2 separate regions of the Homo sapiens genome follow, and region 1 is linked to region 2. The links come from fine-mapping of genetic effects on gene expression. Tissue or cell type: transverse colon. Region 2 holds a variant in brackets; the other region holds the start of a gene. All regions are shown on one strand. Distances are between the middles of the regions.

Region 1 (2,809 bases), 26 kb after region 2:
GCACCTCCAAGGAGTTCAAAGTCCAATTCTCTTTCTCTGCATGAGTTAACATGCAGATGACAAAACTGATTTCAGTTCCCCAAATCTCTAAGTGCTCCGAAGGAAGTTATCACCTTGGCCTATAATTTTGTTTTGACTGTAAATCATTCTTAATTACCATTTTTAAGGCCCCCTTTAAAAAAAAATCCAAGATACATAGCAAATTTCTGGGTTTCCTATGGTACAGATTGTAAAAGTTTCACTTCTACATGCATTTTATATGACAACAGTTGCAAACTATGAGGGTCTCATAAGACATCACTTTCTTTAGATACTACAAGGTATACTACAACTAAAGGCTAGAAATCTTTGAATTTTAAAAAGTGCTGAACTCTACAAGAGTTTGCTAGTGACAAAGTTGCATTTTATCACTATTAATTATTCCCCTTTTCCAAACTATTCATAATCTTCTCATCTAGGACATGCTCTGTATTGGGAAGATACTTGGAATAGTCAAGTCTAAACACTAATGAATTCATCTTGCCAATAACGAGACTAAAACCGAACCCATTTTTATCCTCCTTCTACCACCATCCATACTGTTGGTTTTATAAAGTTACTTCTTAAAGACACTCAGGGAACACATACTGGGGCTCTTCATCCCGTTTACATTGCGTAATGATTTAACAATATTCCCATCTTAAAATCACAGTCAGAGGTTCCTCAAGCCAAATTTTGGGAATAACCAAGAACTCTCGGCTATATTAACATTGCCAGTAAAACGTCTCCTTCCAAACAGAAGGGAGAATGAGTTGAAGTGAAAACAATGCCTTTACCTGCTGCACACTCGCGACTCTCATATAGGAGTCCAAGACGATCAACAGAGGCACATGGATATTTTTGCCTTGAAATAACTTGGAGGCTGGAAAACAAGTGGGTGGGGAAAAGAAGCAAAGTCACAATCCACAGCACCCCCTCTCCTTTTTAGTCTGAAACGGGGAGAAAAGTCAAAAAGGTGAAGACCTTCCTGAAATTCTCAGCTGCTTTCTGCCCTAAGGAAAGGATATGGGAGTTTGCGGCTCCTTAAGAGTCCGGGTTTGAGCAGGGTCAAGGGGAGGAGGACAAAATTTGCAAATGTAAGGAGGGGGAGAAAGTTTGCAAAAATAAAAGCACAGTTTATTTTCAAGTGATTACCGCGCTCGGAGTACGTGAACACCAGCAGATCCTCCAGGATTTGGACCAGCGTTTCTATCTGTTTTCCTTCCTGGACATTGTTCAGCCTGACTATCAACTTCTTCAGAGTTTCCTCGTCCTCTTCGCACCCCTGACAGCTGCCACTAGCCATGGTGGCACCTGCTTCCAACCCGCCGCCCTCCCAGCATGAACGTCCGCTGCTCAGGGAACCGGCAGGGGCGCCGGCCACAGCTCCCCGGGGGCGAGCTCAGCTCACCGCCCGCAGCCAGCGCTCCCCGCGGGCCCCATCGGCGCCCACGCCCGCCTGTTTATGAGGAAGGAGGCAGCTCCCCGCCCCGCGTTGCCCTCCCTCTCCGGAGCCCTCCTGCTCGGCTTCCTCCTCCCCCACTCAGGCCCCAAAAACGAGCTCAGGGGCCTGCCAGAGGCTCCGCCGAGGCGACGGGCCGCGCAGAACTCTGGCGGCGGCCGTGGGGCTGCTGGAGCCGGGCCTGGCTGGGATGACCGTGACCGTGGCCCCCACGCACGCCTAGACCGGACCCCGGGCGGACGCCGCCTCCTGGGACCAGATTCCACCGCAGCGGCGGCGCGGCCGGGAGTCGCGCGGGAAGAAACTGACTCAGCGGACTCCGCTGAGTCCACAGGCCCGGAGCCCCGCAGCGGAGGCGCGCAGTGCGCAGCCCGGCCGGCCACCCTCCGCGACCCGCCAGCCGGGGATCCTGCGGCCCCACGGAAGGTCTGGGAACTGGGAGCAGGAAAAATGAAAGCCGCCTATCTCCAGATCTAAGAATAGAAATCAGGGCGCTGGGAAAAGAGGACACCGCCCAGATGGCCCCTTTTAGGAATACATTGTCTTTAGAGTTCCACCTATAGGGAGATGAGCAATTTTCCCCCAAAGGATGGAAAGAGGGGTTAGCCATCAAAACTGCCCCCGCTACTCTTTTTTATGATTTTTTGTGACTGTTAGTGGGAGAGGAAATAAACATTGTTTCCCTGTGAGTTATCTGAAGCTCTGGTCACCAAAAGGCCACTAAATTAACTTTTGGAAATTTGAGTTGCACTAGGCAGGATCCTGATACTTGGGACACCCGAAAAGTAATCAGCTCTCAGAGCTATTAGAGCTGAGACAAAGGACAGGGTACATGAAATGAAAGGTGAAAAGTTGAGAGAAGCAAACCTAAATACTCTTCTCTTGGTATTCAGAAATACTTATGAGTATGGGTGTCTATAACCCCAAAGTTTTTTGGTTTTGTCTTTTGATTGTTTGTTTGTTTGTTCTGTTAAGTACCTAAGTAATGTGTTTTTAGGAAAAGAAACCTAGCAAGAACATTGTAGACAAGGCTAGGCAAAGATGATCTATCCTTCAGGTGATGTGTCTGTCCTCAAGATCACTTACAAAGAAGAGGATTGGACTGGAAGTTACTACTTCACAATTTTAGTTTTGTTTTCACATCTGTTACTTCAATCCTGATGACAATTCTGAAATGGATACAACTACTACTATGTATCCTTCTTTCACTAGTGAGGAAATTGAGATTTGGAATTGAGAAGTGAAGAGCTTTGCTGGAGTCACACAGGTGGGAAGTTGAGAGCCAGGACTTCAACCCAGCAAATCTCCTAACTCCAGGTAGAAGGTTCT
Region 2 (3,019 bases):
TTTTAATAATATATTTATTTTAAAGTTATCTTATGGATATTGAAAAATAGGTATCCTATGAACTGAAATTTATAAACTGCGACATGAATCTCCCTTACCCTAATCTCCAAAAGCCTTGCTCAACATGAGATTATTAAGATGCCAATTTAGCATAGTTTTCAAAAGAATTACTGTTTCTTGTCAAAATGAAAATATTTAATTAAGTAGCATCTGTGTTATTAATTCCCTTCTTATCAGCAATAGATAATTAAACAAATAGACGGTCAAGATTTCAGACATAGAATACTACTATTTGTTTCCAAAATAAGTCATTCACTATTTAAAACCCAGAGGATACCCATTGCAAATAGCACAAGTATAATCAATCAGTTGCCATAAAACACAAAGGCTCACGGATATGAAACAAACCTGATATGCACAAAACTCCTTGCTACAGCTTGTATCTTTGGGAGAGAGTGCCGGTCTTATGATGTTTGAATGGCACTCCTATTGAAAGAGTTATCCAGAGATGACAGCTTCAAATAACCCTCTCGAAAGAAGACAGGTCAACTCTGTCACATCAGTTGGGAACTCATCATAGGAAGCTCTCTAACCAAATCTAATTTCTGATATTGACAACCTGCTGGCTAGTCACCATAGAAGAAAAGATCACAGATGGCTCTGCAATTTCTATCACCCAAGATGAATTAATATGGCATTTTAAAACGATCAGCCAGAAAATAGAAAGATTCTTTCTCCATGATTCATGAATTACCAAATGACCCTTGATTCCAAATCTCTCAATAATAACTCTCATTCTACCTTTTCTAACTCCTGAAGGTGATGAGATCAAAATACTACATACCTACTACTATTTTGCAGCAACATCTAAAACTAAATGCCTATATCAAAAATATTTCTAACAATAAAAGTTACGGTTAAGGTATTTTATAGGTATTGATTTAAAATATAACTGAAATTTTCTATCATATAAAATCAAAACTACTAACTGGCCATCTTCATCTCCAATCTTCTCATGTAAACTGTTTTGGTACATAAGGAGATTATTTAGTGCCCAGCATGCGGCCTCCTGGATTAGGGGAGAAAAAAGAAATCTGTCAAAATATAAATGACTGGAAAACATAATTTTGAATAACTCTAATATTTATGAGAGTCCTACCTGCACGTGCTTGTTCTTTCTATGCCACGTTAATGCTTTGTAACAGGCTTCCAGCCAAAACAATTTATCTTCTTCCCCCTCATCATCATTCTCTTGATTCTCATTCTTTTCCTCTAAATCTTGATTTAAGAAAATAGTCTCAGCTTGAAAAAAATTGAAAAATATATAAAAACATTATATATATTATCTACTTAACAGTTTGACCAACTCTAAGTCCATATTTTGAAATATTACCAACAGAATGAGGTGTGCTTTAGGAGAAGCCTTGGTCAATTATAAAGATAATTTTTAATATATTATACGTCTCATAATGCTACCATCCTATCCAGATAAATAATAAAATGAGGAAGAAGGTACCAAAAAAAAAAAAAACCTAATAGACGAGAGGAGGATTATTTGAAAAGATTAGTTCATCACAGCACTATTCACAAGAGCAAAGACATGGAATCAACCCAAATGCCCATCAATGATAGACTAGATAAAGAAAATGTGGTACATATATACCATGGAATACTATGCAGCCATAAAAAGGAATTATCTCATGTCCTTTGCAGGGACACGGATGGAGCTGGAAACCATTATCCTCAGATAACTAACACATGAAGAGAAAACCACACACTGCGTGTTCTCACTTATAAATGGGAGCTGAACAATGAGAACACATGAACACAGG[G/A]AGAGGGACAATACACACTGGGGCCTGTTAGGGGATGGGACTGGAGAAGGGAGAGCATTAGGAAAAATAGCTAATGCATGCTGGGCTTAATACCTAGGTGATGGGTTAATAGGTATAGCAAACCACCATGGCACACGTCTACCTATGTGAAAAACCTGCACATCCTGCACGTGTACACCAGAACTTAAAACACAAATAAATTATTTTTTTTGAGATGGAGTTTCATTCTTGTTGCCCAGGCTGGAGTGCAGTGGCACAATCTCAGCTCACTTCAACTCCTACCCTCCAGTTCCAAGCGATACTCCTGCCTCGGCCTCCCGAGCAGCTGGGATTATAGGTGCCCGCCACCATGCCAGACTAATTTTTATATTTTTAGTAGAGATGGGGTTTCACCATGTTGGCCAGGCTGGTCTCGAACTCCTGACCTTGTGATCCACCCGCCTCGGCCTCCCAAAGTTCTGAGATTACAGGCGTGAGCCACCATGCCCAGGCACAAATAAAAATTTTTTTAAAACAGATTAGCTGCTTAATGACAAAGCTAAATCAAGAATGATGTAAAGCAAAACTCTACATTGAGATGTGTATATTTGTCACAACTGTTAGTTTCCTTGAAAGTATCCTCTACTGGAAAATGAGCTACACAGGACAGAAAAGGCATTGAATGCTTCCATCTGTACATATGATTCTCTTGTTACAATGTTCATATTTGATGTCAAATGCCTCTGTAAGAATCCCCTTTTTAGTGAAGTTACTTACTGAGGAGGGCCAAACAGCTGAGCGCTGAGATCTGCAATGCTGCATTCTCTGGGTACTGCTGCACAGCTTTCACCACAAACTCATGGACTTCGTTTAATACCAGGATATTGAAAAAATTACCTAAAAGTTAAGTGAAACATTAGCTGAATTCTCATCCATGGAAGTTAAATTACCTTTAACATATAACACTATTTACATCAATAATTTTGAATGGTGATGAATATTCAATGGCATTAAAACATTTACTTTAATTAAAATAGCTTAATATGATTGAGTAAAGTTTTGAAATTTTATTTTATGCTGTCCTTTAATTATCTTACTTAGACAATGGAAGTGATTGAGCAAAAGTAATGATACTAGTTTGCGTTGTATTAACTGTATGTTCTCTGATTCCCTCTCATGTCATGTCTGTGACACACGGCACGACAATA

The links.
Region 1: LRRK2 starts here. The variant in region 2 is fine-mapped to the expression of LRRK2 in transverse colon (GTEx, PIP 0.95).

What each region holds. Positions count from the first base shown.
Region 1 is chr12:40,223,647-40,226,455 of GRCh38, reverse strand. LRRK2 (leucine rich repeat kinase 2) reads right to left here and starts at 1,459. Exons shown (of 51, transcript NM_198578.4): 1 at 1,174-1,459; 2 at 816-901. The coding sequence starts at 1,324. LINC01779 (long intergenic non-protein coding RNA 1779) reads left to right here and starts at 1,553. Exons shown (of 1, transcript NR_186584.1): 1 at 1,553-2,809. It overlaps LRRK2-DT (LRRK2 divergent transcript), which reads left to right and starts at 2,634. Exons shown (of 9, transcript NR_186757.1): 1 at 2,634-2,797. RefSeq lists an enhancer at 46-135 and a silencer at 1,334-1,693.
Region 2 is chr12:40,249,515-40,252,533 of GRCh38, reverse strand. LRRK2 (leucine rich repeat kinase 2) reads right to left here. Exons shown (of 51, transcript NM_198578.4): 8 at 2,589-2,708; 9 at 1,160-1,302; 10 at 990-1,069. Among named protein-coding and RNA genes, the nearest start is that of LRRK2, 26 kb to the right of the region's middle. The variant G/A (reference allele first, on the strand shown) is at 1,833.